3 linked regions of the Homo sapiens genome follow. The protein of the gene in region 2 purifies or fractionates together with the protein of the main gene of each other region. This does not show direct contact. Each region holds a gene or a part of one and is shown on either strand. Other genes may lie near its edges.

Evidence for each region.
Region 1: the proteins of NAPA (region 2) and NAPG purify together in Homo sapiens (affinity purification with mass spectrometry; 5 studies listed by BioGRID and IntAct, with this or other methods). This does not show direct contact.
Region 3: the proteins of NAPA (region 2) and BET1 purify together in Homo sapiens (affinity purification with mass spectrometry; 5 studies listed by BioGRID and IntAct, with this or other methods). This does not show direct contact.

What each region holds. Positions count from the first base shown.
Region 1 is NC_000018.10:10,542,876-10,546,626, reverse strand, and holds part of NAPG (gamma-soluble NSF attachment protein), read right to left. Parts: intron 302-3,751; coding exon 223-301; intron 1-222. UniProt on the Homo sapiens protein: Required for vesicular transport between the endoplasmic reticulum and the Golgi apparatus.
Region 2 is NC_000019.10:47,501,355-47,505,105, forward strand, and holds part of NAPA (alpha-soluble NSF attachment protein), read right to left. Parts: intron 2,149-3,751; coding exon 2,069-2,148; intron 244-2,068; exon of another isoform or gene 103-243; intron 1-102. UniProt on the Homo sapiens protein: Required for vesicular transport between the endoplasmic reticulum and the Golgi apparatus. Together with GNA12 promotes CDH5 localization to plasma membrane.
Region 3 is NC_000007.14:94,002,635-94,006,385, reverse strand, and holds the start of BET1 (BET1 homolog), read left to right. Parts: upstream 1-2,030; 5' UTR 2,031-2,169; coding exon 2,170-2,188; intron 2,189-3,751. UniProt on the Homo sapiens protein: Required for vesicular transport from the ER to the Golgi complex. Functions as a SNARE involved in the docking process of ER-derived vesicles with the cis-Golgi membrane.

The sequences.
Region 1 (3,751 bases), on a different chromosome or scaffold from region 2:
TCAAGGGTGGTTGCTTTTGTATTTTATCCAGTAGTTTAGCTGTAATCAGCAGAGAAACAAGCTGTAGTGGGCTTACTCTATCTTGGTCAAAAATAGAGGCCCATGAAGTATTATTTTACAAAAACATAGAAATACCCATAGAATCCTTTCTTAAGTACTTATTCATACCAGTATAAAAAATCATCTAATGTAATACCAAAAACAAACACTTTCAAAGAATACCTTATAACAAGTTGGATAATTCTCAATTTCCTTATAAATATTTTTTTCTTTCTGAATAGAGAGTGCCGCCTCATCAAACCTAAAACAAAACACAGAAATGTAAAAAAAGCAGGTCTAAATGATCTATAGCAGAGGTCCCCTGTGAAATGTACTTGACATCATAGATTGTAGAGACACCAGGAGGACAGGTATTATTAGCAGCTGCCCCAGGACCCAGGTTTCCACATGCTCTGCTCATCTGGCTTACCTTTCAAATGTCTGACTCCCCACTTTCAGGCTGCACGCTGACAGAAAAAGCAAAAGAACTCAAGGATGGGTTAGGTCAAACGGGGAGTTTTAAGCTTAGTAAGGACTGTCCAATAGCGAGTGTCACGACTTCTTCGTGATACGTACTTGAGACGATCTTCGATTAAATCACCCAAGATTTCTTTCCTCCCGACTGAAAGAACATCCAGACACCCAAGGCACTCGGTGCCTTCCCCCGACTGTGTCCCTCCATCACATACTCCGCTGCTGCCCCAGTGGCCCTAGCAAGCTCTGAGGTGCCTAAAAGGGCAGCAGAGGGGAGGCAAGTTAGAGACCTAAACAAAAGCCTTCCTGCATCTTCAGTCTTCAACATTCATCTTTTCCATTGACCCTCATACATTCTCCTTTTCTTCCATTTTGCCCAATGGCAGAATGAAGACGAAAGCAAGGAAAGGGGTCACCAAAACATTTCCCCCAAACCCTCCAGGCCCTTACCCCTTTCTCATTCCCCCAGCCCTAATTCCATCAAACCCTAATTGAACCTCCCCTCCCTGCAAAGCTGTAGTATACTCCAAATGCCAGGACTCCCTCAGTAGTACAACTTGAGACTGAGTGAAATGTACAGTCTTTAGCCACTGCTCTCATCCCAATAACAGTCCACGGTTATGGGAGAAACTACCAGGGTCTGGGCATTGGGAATACACACAACCAACAGCCAAAAGGGGCAAGAGTCTGTACTATCGGGATTCAAAGGGAGGTAAGTGGTATTGTAAACCAAAGTAAAAATACAAAAATGTTATGCTTGTTATGCTATATGCTCTATTTTTCTGTCTTTTTATTTTTTTTTGAGACGGAGTCTCACTCTGTTGCCCAGGCTGGAGTGCAGTGGCGACATCTCGGCTCACCGCAACCTCTGCCTCCCGGGTTCAAGTGATTCTCTTGCCTCAGCCTCCCGAGTAGCTGGGATTACAGGCGCCCACCACCACGCCCAGCTAATTTCTGTATTTTTAATAGAGATGGGGTTTCGCTATGTTGGCCAGGCTGGTCTCGAACTCCTGACCTCAGGGGATCCACCTGCCTCAGCCCCCCAAAGTGCTGGGATTATAGACGTGAGCCACCGCACCCAGCCTGTATGTTATCTTTTTAAAAATAGTGGCATGTATACACAGACACACACACACACCACACACACAGTGGCTTGGCTTATGCTATTATGGCTACTTACATCATGAGTTAAACTGAATCTTTATGGGATGCACGCTGGCAACTTAGTGCCTTATAAAATGACACTCATAGGAGAAATGCATTCTGAATTTCCACAGGTCAACTTGATAAATTTTTGGAACAAAGTCAATTTATAAGCTGGGTTTGGTAGCAGAATTCTAAGAGTGCTCCCGATTCTTGCCCCTTGTAAACATTTCCTCTATAATCCCCCTTTAAGTGTAGGTGTGACCCTCGGAATATGATGGGCCATCCTGTGATTAGGACACAAATCAGCTGACTTCGAGTGAATCACTGTCTGTGTGGGCCTGACTTAATCAGGTGGGCCCTTCCTTAAGTTAGAGGCCAGAGTACTCCTGATGTCTCGAATTAGCAGCAAACTGCCATGCTGTGAACCACCAATGGGGGCACACGGCCAGGAACTGAAGGCAAACTCAAAGCTGAGAGCAGTTCCTGGCGAACAGGCAACAAGAAAACAGGAATCTCTTCCACACAGCTGCAAGGAAATCAATTCTGCCAACAATCAATGAGCTTGGAAAAGGACCCAAGCCTCCGGTGAGATCAGCCCCCTCCGACACCTTCATTTCGGCCTGGTGAGACCCTAGCTCTGCTACCTAGCTACACTAGGACCTAGCTACACTGTATCCAGACTTCTGGCCTCATGAAACTGTGAGCTAATCAGTGAGTACTGTTTTAAGCTGCTAAGTTTGTAGCAATCTGCTATGCAGAAATAAAAAATTAATGCAAGGCGGACTACAGCTACATGTATCTGTATCATTTATAATTGTGACCCTGAGCTTATAACAGATCCTGTTTTATAAAATAAATTATGGTCAGAATATTCTGTGCCCGTCGTGTCTAGATTATATCATTCTATTAGCAATCTCAGTATTTTAAACTTTTCATATATTTAACTATAAAGGGTGCATTCTTTACGCATAAACTGTTTATTTCCTTGACATAATATTAGCATTTCTATGTGCTAATATATAGTTACCTAACAAAAGAGCCAAGCCCTTACATGAGTTTGTAGTCGAAAAAGTTGATCGACTTTGCTAAAAGGCCATGAAATTAGCATACAAAGCCATCTATTTTTAAATGTATCCAGAAAAGTATTAGTTACTTATTATAATGAAACACAGATGCTTTCAACTTTTCCATCAGGTAATACTTAATATTCCTAACAAAATGACAAGAATTTGGTTTTGCTGAAAAAAGAATAAATTGTTTTTATCTTCCCCAAATGTAACAAAATTGAAACCCCACAGAAGTTATGTGCAAATGGCAGAAAACTGTCACAGAACCTCATTCATCCCCAAGCTTTCAACAGACACCTTCTACACCACAACTCAAACTGTTCCTCTGGCCCCAACTATTTCCTGAACTCCAAAACCTATTTTTAACTACCTACAGAAATGTTTAGTTTATGTGTCATATTCCCAGCTAAGTTTATTATCATCACTGATAAGTTTGTTTCTATATTCCTTATCTCAGTTATTGATGGCACCATGGACAGAACAGTTATGCAAGACAGAAACCCAGTGATTCTCCTTAATAGCACACATCCCACCCCTGAACATATACACACCCAACCCTCCTTGTGTTTAGGATCTAGTGACTGTCTCAGACAACTGGTGAGAAGCAGCTCTTTTCTTTGCTAAGTGAGTCTTCTAGGAGGGATTTGGGTTCACTGAGACCACACACCTTGTCTCAGAGGCATAGACCTTCTCTCAGAGGCACAAGGTCATGATCAACTTGCTGGAAAGGTCTTTTTTTCTTTTCTTTTCTTTTTTTTTTTTTTTGAGATGGGAGTCTCACTGCAACCTGTGCCTCCTGGGTTCAAGCGATTCTCCAGCCTCCCGAGTAGCTGGGATTATAGGTGTGCGTCATCACACCCGGCTACTTTTTGTATTTTTAGTAGAGAAGGAGTTTCACCATTTGGCCAAGGCTAATCTTGAACTTCTGACCTCAGGTGATCTGCCTGCCTCAGCCTCCCAAAGTGTTGTGATTACAGGCATGAGCCACTGCACCCAGCCTGGAAAGGCCTTTTCTAAAAAGGAAC
Region 2 (3,751 bases):
TCCCCTTTCCAAGTCCTGTTTCTTTTTCCACAGCTCCCCAAAGCTCTTCCTGATTCTCCCAACTCCTCTGCCTCTGTTCACATTCTGTTCCCTTCACTGCAGATCCCCATGGACAAGGCACTTGCATGAATTGTGAGGCTCATGGAGTTGGGGTCGGACAACACAGAGCCGGCTCCCTCCAGGAGCTGCATGTCCAGAGAGGGAAACAGGATGTGGACAGCAAGAATGAATACATGCAGACCAGTGCCCATGGGCGGAGGGCAGAAGAGACCGTGCCTGAAGCCTCATCCATCCTGTGCTCATCTGCACACGGTCAGCTTCTGTGGGTCCCAAGCCATTCTGCCCACACATCTCCTAACTGACGTTTGGGAGGCAGCAGCATCTCTCCTCCTCCTCGTGCAGCTGACCACCTCCAGCTCAGCTCTGAGGCTTCTCCCCTTCATTCTCCTCCAGCTGAATCTGAGTCAGAGTTTCTAAGCTGGAAGAGGACCAGGAGGCCTGGCCCTATCCTCTTAAGTTTTGAGCAGCAGAAAAGACAAAGCCTTCCGGGTTTTCACTATATGATTTCATTATTTTCAAGAGTTCCAAATTTGAGTATAAAATTACGGCCAGGCGCGGTGGCTCATGCCTGTAATCCCAGCACTTTGGGAGGCCGAGGTGGGCGGATCACGAGATCAGGAGATGGAGACCATCCTGGACAACATGGTAAAACTCTGTCTCTACTAAAAATACAAAAATAAGCTGGGCGTAGTGGCACGTGCCTGTAATCCCAGCTAGTCAAGAGGCTGAGGCAGGAGAATCACTTGAACCAGGGAGGCGGAGGTTGCAGTGAGCCAAGATCGCGCCACTGCACTCCAGCCTGGCAACAGAGCAAGACTGTCTCAAAAAAAAAAAAAAAAAAAAAAAAAAAAAAATTTCAAGAAAAGGGGATATTACCGGGGGGAAATGGCCTAGGGCTTTTCTTTGAAGAGTTTGGGGGCAGAGGTAACAAATTTTAGGGGAAAAGCAACACCTATGTAATTAAAAAATAAGCTTTTTTTCTCTAGAGGAATTTTCTAAGTTTGGGAGCATAAAAATACAAAAAACATTTGGCTTTATTCACAACGTATTTTGTGAAAACTCAGGAATAACTCTTTGAATTTTGGGGAAACCAACAACATTCTCAAAAACGATGATAATCAATTTTATTGTGCACCTCTGCACCCTGCCTCCATGGTCCCACCACCAGGTTCCCTCTCCTCCACAGTCAGAAGTTCCTCCCTGCATTCAAACACTGGGTCTCTTGCCGTATTTCCTTAATTCAATCTTGGTGACATGAAAGATGTATGATGAAATGAGCCTCGAAAGGGCTCAACACACTGGCTTGTTGGACTTCTTGGGCCTGCAGGGAGCTCCAAACAGATCTCCAGCCTCCCTGAGCCCAAGGGGCTCCTCCCCACCCCTCTCCTCTGTGAAGCTATCCTGCCTCACTGGGGCAGGTTAAACACTCAGGCTCTGCAGTCAGAGCCTTGGTTTCTGAATCTTGGTTCTGTCACTTACTAGTTCTGGCATCCTGGGCAAGAGACTAAGCCAAGCCTCAGTTTCCAAATCTGTAAAATAGGGATATTTATAGACTGACCCTTAGGGCTGCTGTGCTAACGCAATTAAATGATGAGCACTTAGGACTCAACAAACAGCAGCCATGATTCACGTTGTTATTGGAATCACCTGAACATCCTCCCCCAGCCTAGAATTTAGACACTGATGGAAGCACTAAGGAAGTTACCAGGAAACCTGAAGTTCTGAATTTAAGGAGGACTCTAAGAGCTCATCAATCCACATGGGTTTATCTAGGTCTAATAATCTATTTATTCCCATCCTCTCTGTCCTTTCACCAAGGCCCCATGACCCAGAGTATAAAGTAACCCAGCAGGCACAAAACAAGAGAGCAGGCCAGTGGCTTTCCGATGCCGGAGAGGGCATACAAAGAGAAAGGGCCCTCAAGGCCAACCTCTCGGGCAGGCCTGTGTGAGTGGAAGCTGAGGGAGGAGGAGAGCACCTTGGAGGAGCTCTAGCGGAGATGACATACCACTCCAGTTTTTGGCCATTTTGAACATGTTTGCTGCTCTGGCGTAGATTTCGCATGCTTCCTCTATTTTGGATGAGCCTCTGGGGAAAAAGGAAAGAAAAAAAGGAGACAATCTAGTCGGCTATCCAGGAGAAAGCAAGCATTCTGCTCCAGTGCCGGGCACAGACGTGCCCCTACCCCTCACCCTTCACCTGTGAAGCCAGCTTCCCCCAGGCCTCTTGAGTCTGTGGCCCCCGCCCCTGCATACAATGGCACACTCACTTCGGGCAGACCAGCTCCCTCCGGGAGTACTGGGGTAGATACTGGGTGCTTGCTGGGGTAGTGGGGCGAAGAGTTCCTGACCCCACCACAACCCCAGGGTCTGACAGCCTCTTCTACTTCCTGCCTGGGATACTAGGGGCCCACTGGGTCCCAGGCGCGCTACAAATCCCCTTTCCCCGGGAGACTGCAAAGCATTCTGGGGGACTAGCCCAGTTTAAGACATCGTGTTGCTTTCGCAGAGGCAGCCTTAATCCTGTGCCTTGCACTCTGTGGTTGCTCAATAAAGACCTTGCAGCCCTGGAGTGTGTCATTACCAGCTCAGGACTGGGCATATATATCACACAGCCATACAAAGAAATGGGAAGCACTATTTTAAAGTGTAGATATAAGATGTTCCCATTTGTGTTTAAAAAAAAAAGAGGGTGGGCTGGGTGTGGTGGTTCATGGCTCCTGTAATCCCAACACTTTGGGAGGCCAAGGTTGGCGGATTGCTTGAGCTCAAGAGTTCGAGACCAGCCTGGGCCACACGGCAAAACCCCAACTCTACAAAAAATACAAAAAATTAGCAGGGTGTGATGGTGCACGCCTGTAGTCCTAGCTACTAGAGAGGCTGATGTGGGAGGATCACTTGAGCCTGGGAGGCAGAGGTTGCAGTAAGCCAAGATCACACCATTGAACTCCAGCCTGGACGACGACAGAGCCAGACCTTGTCTCAAAAAAAAAAAAAAAAAAAAAAAGAGAAAGAGAGTGAAAATAATAGAAACATACATGTTTATATAAACATAGGATATTTCTGGGCAAATACACAAAAACCTAGTAACAGCATTTTTCTCTTAAGGTGAAGCCTGCAGAAGGAGGGCCAGGTGTGGGAGGCAGACTTATTCACTGGACATCCCGTATTTGTACTGTCTGAATTTTTTTTTAACTGTTTGTACATCTTTTCGAGAAAAAAAATATATACATATATACACACACGTGTACATATATACACATGTGTATATATGTGTATGTGTATATATGTGTGTATATATCTATACATTTACACATACACAGACACACACACACACATATTTTTAAGTATTAGGATTTATATTTGGCCCTGTGGTCCAGCAATGAATTACATCTCTAGCAATTTATCCTAAAAAAACTAATCAGAAAAGTTACAAGGATGTTCAGCATAGCATTATTTAAAACAGCAAAACCCCCCAAAAACTTATTGTCCAACAGTAGGGATACACTGGGAGATAGACAGGAATTTGAAAACATAAAGGGTACCCTGTTTGGGCAGCTTCACTCTGGCTTCTTGACCTCCACATGTACATAATGAGCCTCCTCTTGACTTGGGGGACCTCATTAGTACCTCAAACCCGTAAGTCCCACTGCATTCTTCTGCCCTTAATAATACAACCAGGCTTAGCCCGC
Region 3 (3,751 bases), on a different chromosome or scaffold from region 2:
CAAATGGGCAGGCAGGAAGCAGACAGATAGGAGAAAGAAAAGTTCCAATTTTGCACCTCGATTCAGACATTTCCTGCTTTTATTCTTGCTTTTGTAATTACTAGAAGGAATACTTAATATTATTTTAAGTAATTTTTAGTCCTTTATCTCCTAGAGACCTACAAACATTAGATGTTTTCTGTGAGACTATCCTGTGAGAATAGAGAAGAGGTTCTAAATGCTATTCATCTCTGTGAAATTTATTTGCTTTCAATCAGTAAGAAAAGTTAAGGATTTTAATTTAAAAAGGAAAAAGCACAACGAGAAAAGTGAAAATGATTCCCTCTGATCGCTAATGTCAACTATGGTCACATTTAATAATTCTTTTTCTGCACATTGAGTTCATTTTTCCTGCCTCTTCCTTTGAGTGCAAATTTTTTTCAGATGACATTATCCTAATTTGATACTAGCAACGTTAGCTAAAAACAATAATTGGATTTTTTAGGTAACAACTTCAATATGAACTAGCTTTGCCTTACTTCAGTTATATTCTTAGTACATTATATATGTTTTCCTTTTAACTACATTTCATTCTTATGTCTTCCTACCATGTAAAGGAAGCAGTATATTTTATGTAATCTAAATGATTAGTTCTAGTAAATATTACCATATTTTCAAAAATAACGATTTCTACATTTCCATCAGCAAGCCTTCTGTAAGGCAATTTTTAAACGTTTTAATTATAGAACATGCATTTTTTTAACCAAAGGACTGTCACAGATTTTAAGTTATAAAGGGATACCTAGCTATCATTTCTTTTATTGAATCTCCATCTTTTATTTGTAATAATTGTCCCTGATATTATGCTTATTTAATTTCATTGCTTTTAGAAAATGGCGGTTTTATTTTAATGATTTTTTTCTATCAAAACACTATTGGATAAAGCCTCCTTCCCAGGTTAATAACTCTTATTAAAAATTGTTTTCATGTGTTTTTTACAAAAGCAACTTAACGCAGAGACTTATGCCAGTATTATAGTCAATGTTAATAATGTCCTGGGAAACTATGAGGAAACGCTAAATGATCAAAGATCACATATTCGGAAATCTCTAGTGTGGAGACGATTCCACTGCCATATATACAGCAGCAACAACAAAACCGCAGACACCCAGTGAATTTTGATCACCTACTGTGTATCAGGTTTTTTTGTTTTCCCTTCAAAAACCACGATTTCATCGTATTCTCACGATAAATCCTCTGAGATAAAATGAAATTCTAGGATTAACCTCGATACCAGTAACACCTCCAACTCGCCAACAAGTTTTAAACCCCTAATTGGCACACTGCCTTGTGTAAGCAGTATTTCAATAAGCTTTGTGTAAGTTAAAAAAAAAAAAGTGGGAGAGCGTTTAGGGGTCCTTTGGTCCCCATAACAACTAAAAGTCTTGGTTCTTTCTAGAAGTACAACAGATGCAGTAACAGGGAACTAACTATTCAGTGCCTCTGACCAGATCCCGCAGCCTTTCCTAGTCTGCTCTCATCTGAGCAGGAGTCCTACTCAAAGGAACCTGGTTTTCTTTCCTTTACTGGATACTACAAGGCACAAATCGGTTACTTCTGTGGGTGTCGGATTACTTGTTTGTAAACTGAGAAACCTGGACAAAGTTTTCTCTAACTTTCCCTGAATCGTCTCTGGAGGTGAGAGGGAGTTCGAGGCTAAATCAGGAAAGATACCCCAACCATCCTCTTGTGGGTGGGGAGGAGCAGATCTGCTGGGTTAAACTTGGTGGTCAACAAACTGAAAGCAGCGACCCGCGGGCTGCGAGCGGAACAGCGGGAACGTTGGATCAGAGACCCAGAATCAGAGCCGCAGTCGAAGCCGCCCCCTTTTCCGGACGCCCCGTCCGCTCCTGGAACCGGGTTCACATCACGCCCTCAGCAACACGTTATGCGTTGGTGAACTACATTTCCCAGAATGCCTTTCAACCTTCTTCCCAGGGCTCCAATGAGCGCCGTGGTGACGCCATCATCCGGCGCGGTGTTTAGACTCCACTGATGTCGTGGCGCTTTAGGGGAAGAAGTTGGTGTTTCGCTGGGCCCTGGTACTGAAGACGCGGTCCGGGTCGCCCCTAGCTGTTTCCTACTCACCCAAAGCCCCGCACCCGCCTTTTCTCTCTCTCCTCTGGCAGGATGAGGCGTGCAGGCCTGGGTAAGAAGAGGGCTGAGGTTCGAAGTTCGGGGCCCTAGAACCGGGAGCGCTGGGGCGCGGGAGGAAATCGAACCTGTCTTATGTTCCTGGCATTTGGTCCAAAAAACAGGATGTCTAGAGGGGATCTTTGGGGTCCATGTCGAGTGGAAACACACCATTTGTCCCAGATCTTTGGAATTTCCTTAAGTTTGAGTCAGATTCAAGTTTGGATGGTAGGCTAGAGAAAGTAGTGGACTAGGGGTGGGTGTGTACAGGTGGCATCTCAGTGGTCGAGTGTTTTAGTGTTATTGACTGAGCGTGGTTATGGACGCTGCTATGTTTTCCAAAGCCCGACTCCGGTTTCTGTTTCCCTACTGGCCCTGGATCTTAGTTTCTTCAGAAGCGGAATTTGAAGAGTGGGTGGTTGCACCCAAAGCACGCTAGTAATGGTCGTTAATCTGGTAACAGTGAGTTACAAAGGTAAATGTATGTGTCATTATTGTTAAAGGTCCTGGAACTGGAACTTCTGGGTCAAAGGCGATTTCTTAATCTGAACCTTGTGCCACGGTTAAGGCAGTAGAACGTGGTTAAGGTTTGGCGACTTAACATTTGATCTTTACCTTTGGGGTTAGGAAACTGGCTCATCAGCAAGAATAAGTTAGACACAAGGAATTTTAATGGACCCTTATAGTAACGCACAGCTACTAGAACGGCATTTTCTGGTTCTGAAGCTTTCTCTTAGGACACGATTTTTTTTTTAAAGAAGACCCCGCTAAATTAGAGTGCAGTATACTTCAGAAAATAAATGAAACATTTGAAAAAAGATATTACCTTTCTCAGTCATTATAAGATTGAAAAAAGAAAAAAAAAATCCCCAAAGTGTCAGATATTTAAAGTCAGTGAAAGTTGCCAATAACCGTAGACTTGTTTATTGATCAATAAATTGTAGTATGAGAAAGTTTTTTGTTTTTTTAATGAAGTTTTTATGAATACTTAGATCATAGAAAATGGGGCCAGGTAAATTGAAGAGAAAAAAAAAAGAAATAATTTTGAGCAAGTTTAGCTTTATATGTCTAAATGTTTTTCTTGTTCATCATCCTTAATACCAAAAAAGATTTATTGTGTGCTTGAGTAAGCTCTAGGTATACAGTTGTTTGTTGCCCTGTTTGTGATCCCCAAAGCTTCCAGTCTAGGTGGGGAGTAGGAATATGTGCAAAGATAAATTGTAGTACAAAGTGTCGCTATACATCCAAATACCAGATAAGTTCTACATATAAGGGATGGTCTCAGAGATTTCAGAGATAGATCACTGTGTACTTTGTGGGGAAGATCTTTGTGTATTTGGTGGAGACATAGGAATTTGAAGTAGACCTTGAATAATGGAGAGTGGGGGAAGTGAGTTCCAGATAGGAGGAACTCAAAAGAAGTAAGGGATTATGATTAAGCCAGTTTGGGTGAAGTAGGGGATTCGGGATCACACTGTGGAGATCTTTGCATGCGAGGCCAAAGAGTTTGGATTTCATCAGTAGGCCCCTAGGCCCTTTTGAGTATTTTCCTGCTGCAGTGTGCCATGTTAAATTGCAG